2 separate regions of the Homo sapiens genome follow, and region 2 is linked to region 1. Evidence: fine-mapped expression QTL. Tissue or cell type: blood mononuclear cells. Region 1 holds a variant in brackets; the other region holds the start of a gene. All regions are shown on one strand. Distances are between the middles of the regions.

The links.
Region 2: it holds the start of LINC01954, and the variant in region 1 is fine-mapped to the expression of LINC01954 in blood mononuclear cells (TOPMed, PIP above 0.99). The same link has a PIP of 0.9 or more in whole blood.

What each region holds. Positions count from the first base shown.
Region 1 is chr2:10,882,277-10,887,766 of GRCh38, reverse strand. LINC01954 (long intergenic non-protein coding RNA 1954) reads right to left here. Exons shown (of 2, transcript NR_110575.1): 2 at 2,649-2,933. Among named protein-coding and RNA genes, the nearest start is that of LINC01954, 6.8 kb to the right of the region's middle. The variant C/T (reference allele first, on the strand shown) is at 2,934.
Region 2 is chr2:10,876,116-10,881,366 of GRCh38, reverse strand. LINC01954 (long intergenic non-protein coding RNA 1954) reads right to left here and starts at 3,100. Exons shown (of 2, transcript NR_110575.1): 1 at 2,923-3,100.

The sequences.
Region 1 (5,490 bases):
GGGGTTATGGGCCCATTATTGAACAAAGTAAGTGTTTGCAGCTCACCAGGCATCTGTCAGTGTGCTTGCTGAAATCAAACATGTAAACCCAGACGCATTCGCCCAGACAAACACCACCTGCCTCTGCATTTTAGAAGATCACTTTTTAATCCCTCCAAGTCAGAAATTTTCTTCCTAGACACCAACTGCTTCTTGAGGAACAGTTTTTGGGAGAAGAGTGGAATCCCACTCTCATCTCAGCCCAGTACTTTGGCAGGTGCTAATTACATCCTGGATCAGAGAGAAACTTCTGCACACTTCAGCATTGGGGGAGGTGGCAATTGCAGCTCAGCAGGCAATGAGTGGATGAGAAATTGCTAAAAAGCCTTTCTGGCCAAACATGGGGGCTGGGGAGGTGTGGGTCATGGGCTGTTTCCCTTGGAAGGAAGGGAGCCATTGCTGTAGCTCCCCACTGTCAGCAAATAGACGGGCTCTCCTCGTGTCTCCAGAGCCCCTAGGACCATCCAGGCCATTGGAGGAAGCCCCCAGACTTGCCAGCTTTCCAACTGTCAATAAGCTACTTCTTTCTTCTCCGTCCACCAGAAGAGTGACATCTGTTGAATGGTCAGAGTGCATGATCCCCAGTTGGCCATTCTGAAAACAGAAGGTCATTTCATAGATTTGTGGTGGTACTGCTGGGCCTGACAGGTTGGGCTGCCTTGACCTATCCCACGTAGTGTGCAGACGCTGAGATTTCTCTGCAGAAGTATTTATGTGTTTGATTCCAGGGTGTTGCCTGGATCTCTAGAGTTGCTGGAGGTGTCGTGCAATGTACAGAATATAGATGATATTACTTTTTAAAATATTTTTGGGAAAAACACTGATTCCAAAATACATCTGGCCCTGAGGAATTGTCAACTTGTACTTGGTGGTATTTGAGACCTGCCTTGACCATCTCACCTAGACTCAGAGGAACACTTCCCAGGCAAACAAGAGCACAGCCTGGGCGTTTGCCTGATGCCCTCCGCATTAGCTGTTCCTCCCATAAAGTTGCTCATGGAGAAGGATAAAGTGAACACATCTGGCTGTACCTCTCATTTGCTGCATCATTTCCCCATTGAGGACTCAGTTTCCCCATCTTCAAATGAGAAGTTCTACTTTCTAACATCTAGTCCTTGTGTGCCGTTGAGTCCCAAAGCACCAACTGTGAAACTCAGTGTTATGGACTGAAGTTTCTGTCCCCCCAGAATTCATATACTGAAGCTCTAACACCTAATACAGCTGTAGTTGGTGATGGGGCCTCTAGGAAGTAATTAAGGTTAAATGAGGTCATACACGTGTGCCCTTATAAGAGACACCAAGGCAGGCACAGTGGCTCATGCCTGTAATCCCAGCACTTTGGGAGGCCAAGGTGGGTGGATCACTTGAGGCTGGAGTTTGAGACCAGTCTGGCCAACATAGTGAAACCCCATCTCTAATAAAAATACAAAAATTAGCTGGGTGTGGTAGTGTGTATCTGTCATCCCAGCTACTCAGGAGGCTGAGGCAGGAGAATCACTTTAACCTGGGAGGTGGAGGTTGCAGTGCACTGAGATTGCACCACTGCACTCCAGCATGGGTAACAGAGTGAGACTCCGTCTCAAAAAAAAAAAAAAAAAAAAAAAAAAAGAGACACCAGAGAGCTCAACCTCTTTCTGTGCACATGCATGGAGGAAAAGCTGTGAGCATGTGGGGCACAGAGAACGAGACCCGAGGATATGGTGCCTGGCATGCTGGGCACTTCTGAATGTGAGGAAATTGGAAGCTTTAGAAGGTGCCTCACAGCCAAGGACTTTCTAATCTTCTCTTGCTTCTTGCCCACCTCTCCCCACCCCTGTCCCAGCATAGAAGGGGCACTCTGGAATTTCGTTATCTGATTTTGGAAATCAGATTAAGCACAGGGAGAAGATTAACCACAGGGAGAAGATTAATCACAGGGAGAAGAGGAGAGACCAGGAGTCTTCACCACTCCCCGAGAGAATTTCATCTACTCTTCTGAGGGCAGCTGGAGACATCACCTGGGAGACTCTATCTGCATAATTAGACAACCTTTGTGCACAGTGAAGTTCCACCCCTCACCTTCCCACCACGTCCTCCAGAGCAGAGGGGAACTTTGTCCCAGGACATTGTTCTTTGGGCTCATGCGTTTACTGAAAGTCATTTACTGCCCCTCGCAATTGCCTACAACCCCATTTCCCTCTCCCTTATGAGGAGGGTATTTAAGCCTCAGGCGCCTGGTGCTCCTTTGAATCTCATATTTTCTGTGGCCTTGTGCTTATGCACATTAGCAACTTTGAATGCCTTTCTTCCTCCTATTAGTCTGCATATTGTCAGTTTGTTCAAACCTTCAGAGGAAAAGTTTGAACTTCCCTACAGGACACAGAAGAATGGCAGCCATCTGCAAGCAAGAAAGAGAGGCCTCACTGGAAACCAAATCATCCAGAACATTGACCTTGAACTTCCAGCCTCCAGAACTGTGAGAAAATACATTTCTGTTGTTTTAAGACACACAGTCTATGGTATTTTGTGATGGCAGTCCAGGCTGACTGATACGCACAGTGTGTTTGCCTTTCTAAGAAAAAAAAAATCCACAAAGTGCTGGTGAGATTTTAATTAAAAACCACAACAAATAAAATCTGAACTTGGATTTTAATTGTAAAGGATTAATCTGTATTCCATGGCTAGAGGAAAATGAAATTCAAGTTTTAGGAAAATCTAAGCAGCTAAACCCTTGAGTTGGACAACAGTTGGACCAGAGTCACTGCCCGATGCCAGGACTGGATGTGAGGGATGGTTTCCCAGCAGCACTAGTGTGAGACCATGGCCGAGAGGGAGACCAGGATCAGACTGAGATACAGAGGACTCCTCCCATCACACTTCAGCTCAGGACCCCAGGATGTTTTCTGTGGACCTTC[C/T]TGAAATTAAGAAGTGGATTTGCCGTTAACACAGAAACAGCAGAAAGAAAAAAGAGGATATACGTATCTCAGTTACAATGGAGGAGAGATTCACTGCAAGCAGCAGAGCCTGGTTTTGTATGCTGCCCTGACGGCTTCAGAAACCCCACTCCTCCCACTGCGTGGTTCAACCACCCACTGATTTTTTCTTGTTCTCAGGGGCCCTGCCTTTTCCTGTCCTTGAATAAATGTTTGCAGGAACAGCTATCCTCCCATGCAAATGCACACCTCTTTTTCTACAGGCAGCCAGAGAGAAAATCTTGAGTTTGGGGTTAGAATAATATGTCATCTGAGCTGATTCTCTAAAGGATTCCATTACAAAAAGTCCCCTAAATGATAATTGCGGACTTTGTCCTGTTATCAACCACCCCCACCACCCCCCAAGCAGCTGGGCTTAAAATTGCCTGCTGACTGATTCCCTGGGGTTTTCTGTGTAACTCTTCCATCTCCAGTAACATTGCACATGTGTACACATGTGTGCATACACACGCATGCACCCTAAACCCACAAATATTTATTGAATGCTTGTGTAAGACAGTGAAGGCCTTGTGGAAAGTGTACAGTGTGATACCTGCCCTCAAGCAATGATGATCCTGTTGGAGAGTGTGTAAATCTATGAAAAAACAATTTGCAAAGCAAGAGTTAAATATTACCAGCCCCAAGGGAAGAGAGGACAGCTTAATCTTTAATAAAGCTGTCACCTCTGACCCACTGGGTTCTCACAACAGCTCCGAGAAATGCTCATGGCAAAGGCTGCAGAGTGATGAGGGAAGGACCGGAGGGGTTAAGCCATGTGGATTCGCAACACAGAAGGAAGATTGGCCTCGCCAAGCCATCAGCAGGAATGAACAACAACCAAGCGCCGTCTCATTTGCAGTCTTGGCAGCTTGTCTGTACCAAATAAACAACTTAACAAAGAGACCTTGATTTTGATAGTTTGAAAATGGGAGCGGGGTTGATTTACCCAGCGTCTGGCTTTTGCAAAAATCATGCCATTTGAGCTTTCGAGCACTCTGTTCCCCCATCTCCTGGGGTAAATTGACTTTTAAATGAACACAGTTAAATACCCAAGTCTCTGTAACCAGGACAAAGGCTAAAAAGTGCACCTCCTTCCTACACAAGCCACATCAATTTCAGAAAGCACTTTCTCTCGGACCATAGTACATAGCCCTTTCCAGCCCCAGCCAGCAGAACAGAGCCCGTAGAGCCAAAGCCTGGGGTCAGCAGGCTCAGGGGCTGAGGAGGTGGGACAGGAGCTTCTGATTTAGAGGAGGGGAATGTTGAGAGAACCATTTCCCCACCTGCTGCTGTCATCTCCTCTCCTTCCCACTTACTCTTGCACACATAAAGGGAAAAGGATTGAGTTCTTAGAGCAGCGGGTTCCAGTCGGCGGCCTGGGGACTCTTGGGGGGCTGTTGGCAGGACTCTCATGTGCAGGATGCTGATCACTCTATCCGATCATCCATCTACCTGCCCACTCCCTTGTCGCCCCACCAGACATCAGATAAGTCCCCTGCCCCAACCCATGCGTGCTGTGCTATGCTGGATGCTGCTGAGAAGACAGACATGAATCTGATAAGGTCCCTGCTGTCAAGGCCACAGAGTTGCCTGTGGAAAACATAAGGCCTGCTCACTGGTCTGAAGCACTGTGCAGTTAGACAGATCCAGGTTCAAATCTTAACTCTACCATACAATAGCTTTGTTTCCTGGGGCCTCAGATTCCTCATTGGCCAACGTCCCAGTCAAGTAAGTGAAACTGAAATGACCCTCCCTGAGCACACAGTAGATACTCAATAAATGTTAATCCCCATTCTCCTTCCCAGGAGAGGATTAAACGATTACCTAAGACTGGCCTACAGGACTGAAAATGGAGATTAAGACAGAGCAAAGCATGACAGAATTGGGAAAGACATTTTCTGCCTCACCTAAGAATTTTATTCTATTATGGAAAGGAAGCTGCTGGCCCACTCCTGCCCAAAGCATTGTAGTGTAGCCTCCCTCTTCTCCCGATGTCATAACCATGTGTTCCTAGCACCTAGACACATGGTGGACATTAGTGGGTATTTCATTAAATGAGGTTCTCCTGGTGTTTCCCAAGTCAAAAGCAGCTCTGTACCCTGCATTGCTGTGTTCCCATCTCAGCAATCCTGTGCATTATTTTGTTTTGGAAAGATCCAAAAACAAGAGAGAAATAAACTTCTATCACGCAGACAACCCAGGGAGGGAGTGATCTGTTATGAGGGAACTCAGTTTCTGCTAGGCCTTGTGTTCAAAGTTATATGCAGTTTCCAGCTTAGTTTTCCTAATGATGATGGAAGAGATGACAACTATTCCAGGTTTACAGAGAAGAAAAATAAGTTCAGAAAGGTGACATGATGACAGACTCCCAGGCCAGTGCTCCTGTTCCACAGCTGTTCCACAGCTGCCTTTTCTGATGGCTGTGAGTTGTGGGGTGAAAGTCCTGGGGAGGGGAGCGGTTCTCTAATTCCAGCTACTCGGGTGGCTGAGGCAGGAGAAT
Region 2 (5,251 bases), 6.3 kb after region 1:
TACCATATTCAGTGATGGTTTCCTCCTTTTTTTTTTTTTTAGCAAAAGCTTATCACTAAAATGAGAGAAAAAGAGCACTATATATACCAATTTCTGCTGATTAATCCATGACTAAATGCCATATTTTTGTATGGAGGGCTATAAATAAAGATTTCTATCACACACACGGTGCATGCGTGCACTGTACCTGATGAGGAACTTTTAGAGCCCCTGCCTCTATGACAGTCGCTGGCACAGAATGGAGATGAGGAAAGTGGCTGTTATCATGCTCATGATGCTGTTTCTCATGCTCGTGTCACTCGCCACAGCCACAGACACATGCGGAAGGCCGGCAGGGCCAGTATTATCATTGCTTCTGTTTTATAAATGTGAAAATGAAGTGAAAGATCTTACCAAAGGTCACACGGCAGGTCCATGGCAAACCCTGAACTTGAATCCATGTCTTTATACCACAGACAAAGTCATACATTTCCATTCATCTTCTCTCCAAAAGCAAGGAAGTGAAAGCCAGGCGGGAGGCGGGGGTATGGACTTAATTGTAAGCCCTGTCGAGGGAAAAATTCATGGGCAGGAAGTAAGCTTGTTACAGACCGTGGTCTGTTCTGGGAGCTTCCGCAAACCAGCTCTGGCGAATCTGAAAAGGCCGCCCACTCCTTCGCACCGGGAGCCTGTGAGGTGGTGCGGGCCCAGATGTGACCAGGACACACTGGACGTTGCTCAGCGGTGGCCTCCACACCAGGTCATGAGGCAGACAGAGTTCCTGGGAGTTTGACATCCTGGACCCAACCCGGCCCAACCCACACTGGCTGCATTTTGAAGCCACCAGGCAGCCCCTGGGCCCAGGACGGCCTGGGAAGGGAGGGCTTGATGAACAGGTCCCCACCCTCCTCCCTCCTGTGTCCCCGTTCTGCGGCCGCCTCCTTTGCCAGGGCCCCAGGTGGCGCCGGACTCCCCTTCCTGCCCTAGAGGCCTCCTCTACGGCCCTGTCCCCATGGGGAGCTCCATCCTGTTCACCACAGGAAGCATTTCCCAAAGGGAGCTGCTCCAGCCACCAGGTCTGAGGGATGGTGGGTGGGGCGGGTGGGGAGGGGGCATTTTCAGAAAGAGTTCTGAGGAAAAAAATGACTTCTGTGGGAAATTCCAGGTTGAAGCGTCATGGGTTGAATCGTGCCCCCTCCGAAAGCTTTGTTGAGATTCTAACCCCCAGTGTTACCACTAGAGGGTCGTGACGGCAAGCTGTCCAGGTTCTTGGCTTTTTGAACGAAGAATTGGACAAAACGCCCAGCAAAGCAAAGAAAGAATGAAACAACAAGAGAACGAAAGGAGGGATTTATTGAAAATGAAAGTACACTCCACAGTGTGAGAGTGGACTGAGCAGCAGCTCAAGAGCCCAGATCTGGAATCTTCTAGGGTCCAAATACTCTCTACACGTTTCCCATTGGCCACTTGGTGATCATATTATGTAAATGAAGTGCTGGCCCACAATTGGTTGCTTTCTGCAACCAATCAGAAGCTGAAATGAAGTTACCAAGATCACGCTCCTGTGCAAACATCTGATTGGCTGCAAAAAGCAACCAATCAGAGGCTAAGATGAAGTTGCAAAGTTGCATTTCTATGCAAAGGAAGACTCAGCGGCCCGGCAATCAGTCTGACTGGTTGCGGAAAACCAATTTCCCATCTGTGGTGCAGAAAAGGTGGGGGTTTTGCACAGGGAGTAGCCTCTGGTCCTTTTGTTACTTAGTCCTGGAAAGTTAGGTGTTTCCTTTCAATTCAGTTCTAGGAAGTCGGCTTGAAACGGCCTTAGGTTCCCCGCCTCCAAACCCTATTCTCCTGCCTCACCAGCACCTCAGAAGGTGACCTTCACTGGAAACAGGTTTGCTGAAGATGTGATTAGTTAAAATAAGATGTCCTGCTGCACTAGGGTGTGCCCTTAATCCAGTGTGACTGTGTCCTTAGGAGAGAGACACACAGAGACACATGAGGACAGAAGCAAGCCTGAGGTGCCACGGATGCCACAGACGTCACAGACGCCATGGACTGTCAGCCACCAGCAGCTGGAGGAGCAGGAAGGACCCTCCCTAGGCCTCCAGATGGGGCACGGCCCTGCCGATTCCTGGATCTCAGACTTCCGGCCTCCAGAACTGTGAGAGAATCGATGTCTGTTGCTCAAGCCCCAGCGTGGTGCTTTCTTACAGCAGCCCCAGGACACTGGGACACTGGGACACTCACACACACAACGTCCATAACCATTTTACTTTTCAGAGACTTGAACAAGCTAACCTGCAAGAAGTTCCAAGAAGGAGGAGGCAATCACCCCCTTGTCTCCATTTATTTTACCACAAACCTTTTTCCTCAAAAAAACTCAGTGTGCCATGAAACGTACTTTGAGAAGTGGGGGTCTTTGGCATGCATCTGTGGTACCCCAGGAAGGTGACATAGAAGGAGGGGCCAGGCAGGGACCACAGAGTCTGGGTGCCCCTCCAGAGAGGGTGTCTCACCAAGCCACAGGCCAACACCAGGCCCCGCAGAGACCCCTGCTCGTGCTCAGTGAATGAGTGGGCACCCCGACTAACAGGAATTTCATCCTATTGACAGACAACCGACCCTCTGCCTCTGGACCAGTGTAGGGGTTCACCCCAAAGGGAGGCCCCACCAGACATTTGCTCGCCTCCCTGGCCTCAACTCCCAGGCCTCCCCAGCCCCTTGCCCACCCCAGGCTTCCGTGACACCAAGCTGCCACATGCCTTGCCTTCTCTGCTCTGGGCCTTCTCACACATTGTTCCTGCTGTCTAGAATGACCCCCTACTCTCACTCCAATTCCACCTTTTGTCTGCTGACTGGATCGCCACTCATTCATGAAGGCCAAGTTCAGGGACTATGGACGCCCCTCTCAGGCCACACCTCCCCACCCTCTGCCAGCACCTTCCACAGTGAGGGCCCTGACAGCTCCTCCACCCTGGTGTCCAGGCAGCTTCTCGCAGTGAAGAGAAGATGAACTTCAACATGGCGGTAGCAGTTCACGCTGACCTTCTCCCTTGGCCTTGGGCAACTTGCTTTGCCTCTTCAAATTTCTGTTTTCTCATCGATAAACATTATCTATGAGCCAGATGTTTGTGAAAATAAAATAGCGTATTACTGATAGGTGCTGGACATCTAGTCGGTGTAAATAAAATTGCGTTGTTATACTGTTGGTAACATAGGATTTGTCCGGGGGCAGCTGGACCGGGAGCTCCTTGAGGACAGAGGCGGTGGGTGTGCCGCTCCTCTCTGCAGCCGAGCCCCCAGTCCTCCCAGAGTGAATGTTTGCTGACTGCACGAGGGAGCCATCCCCTTGGAGGCTCAGCAGGGTGTGGGCTGTGTTGTCAGCCCTTCCTCCTCCTGTTCACAGCCTTCCCTTAATGACTCAGGAGCACTCCCGGCAGCATCCCCTCTTACAACACACTGCCTTGCTCCAGGGTTGGCGATGGGATCGTTCCCCCCAGTTCCTAGAGCCTAACAGCACCTAGAGCACTGTGATTCTGCGTCTGATTCTGAGTCGTGGGGACATGAGCATCAGGGGTCTCCCCCAAGCACTCCATTTAACATTCACCCCCACGCTGGCACCATCAGCCGAGCAGATAGCATTTCCTGTCTCAGAACGTTCTTGTCATTTGTTTAAGCAAGTTGAAAACTGCTGCACCAGATCCCACTGAAAGGAAGTACTCAGAAGTCAGGTGGGTTGGGAAGTCGGGGAAGAAGGTCCCTCCCTTTACATGTCGTAATTTTTTCTGTTTTCTAAATTTATTTATACTGGATGTTCTAACATGCTGATAAAAGCCATCTACAAAAACATGCATTCATTAAACAGATATTGGGTACCTTCTATTCACCAAGCTCTGTAATGGGGTAATGGAGTCAAAATTAAAATTAAAAATTCCTACCCTTAATAAATATATTGATTAAGGTACACATTAAATGGCTAGAACAAAAAACGCCCCTACAGACAATGACCCAAACACTATAAGAGTTTGTTTTTCTCTTTTGTAACAGTCCCAAGGTGACTTCCACTCCACAAGGGCATTCCAGGAATCAGCTTCCTTCTATCTTTTTTTTCTTGCTGAGGTATAACTTACATGCAATAGGCACATAAATCTTAAAAGAATAGCTCAATCAATTTTTATGTGTGTATACACCTGTGTAACCACCACCCAAGTCAAAGTACAGAACTTTTCCAGCACTCAGGCTAGGCATGGTGAGTCACGTCTATAATCCCAGCACCTTGGGAGACCCAGGTAAGAGAATCACTTGAGGTCAGGAATTCAAGAATGGCCCGGGAAATCTAGTGAGACCCTGTCCCTATAAAACATAGAAAAAATTAGCTGGGCATGGTGGCTTTCACCTATAGTCCCAGCTACTGTGGAGGCTGAGGCAGGAGAATCACTTGAGCCCACGATGTTGAGGCTGCAGTGAGCTATGATTGTGCTACTGCACTCCAGTCTAGGCTACAGAAGAAGACCTTGTCTCAAAAAAAAAAAAAAAGAAAAGAAAAGAAAAGAAAAAGAATGCTTCCAACATTCAAGTTCCTCCTGTCTTATTGCTTTGTAATACCCTATGGTGTTATCTTCATTCCACAACAAAAACTCACTCATTTTATCACCTCTACATTTCAACCCACAGGAAAGAGAGAGAAAAAGGAGGAAGGCATGTAATTTCCTAATTTAAAAAACAAACGGTGATCTGGAAGTTGCAGAGATTGCTTCTGTCACACTCTATTAGCTAATTCTTAGTCTTATGACTATACGAGCTATAAGCATAGCTGGGGAAAATTGCCTCTAGTTGGGCAACCACATAAGCCAAATAAATTCTTGAGTTTTTATTACAAAGAGGAAGTAGGTGTTATTTCCATTTTATAGATGAAGAATCTGAAGATCGGAGAGATGAAGTGGTTTGCTTTAGCTGAACTGAATTATACACCAAAGTTTGTCTGATCCCAGAGTTAGTTTCCTAACACTTGTCTTTAAATTAACAGAAAGGCCAGGCATGGTGGCTCACACCTGTAATCCCAGCACTTTGGGAGGCCGAGACAGGCAGATCACCTGAAGTCAGGAGTTCAAAACCAGCCTGGCTAACATGGTGAAACCCTGTCTCCACTAAAAATGCAAAATTAGCTGGGCATGGTGGCACGTGCCTGTAATCCCAGCTACTTGGGAGGGTGAGGCAGGAGAATCACTTGAACCCAGCAGGCTGAGGTTGCAGTGAGCCAAGATTGTGC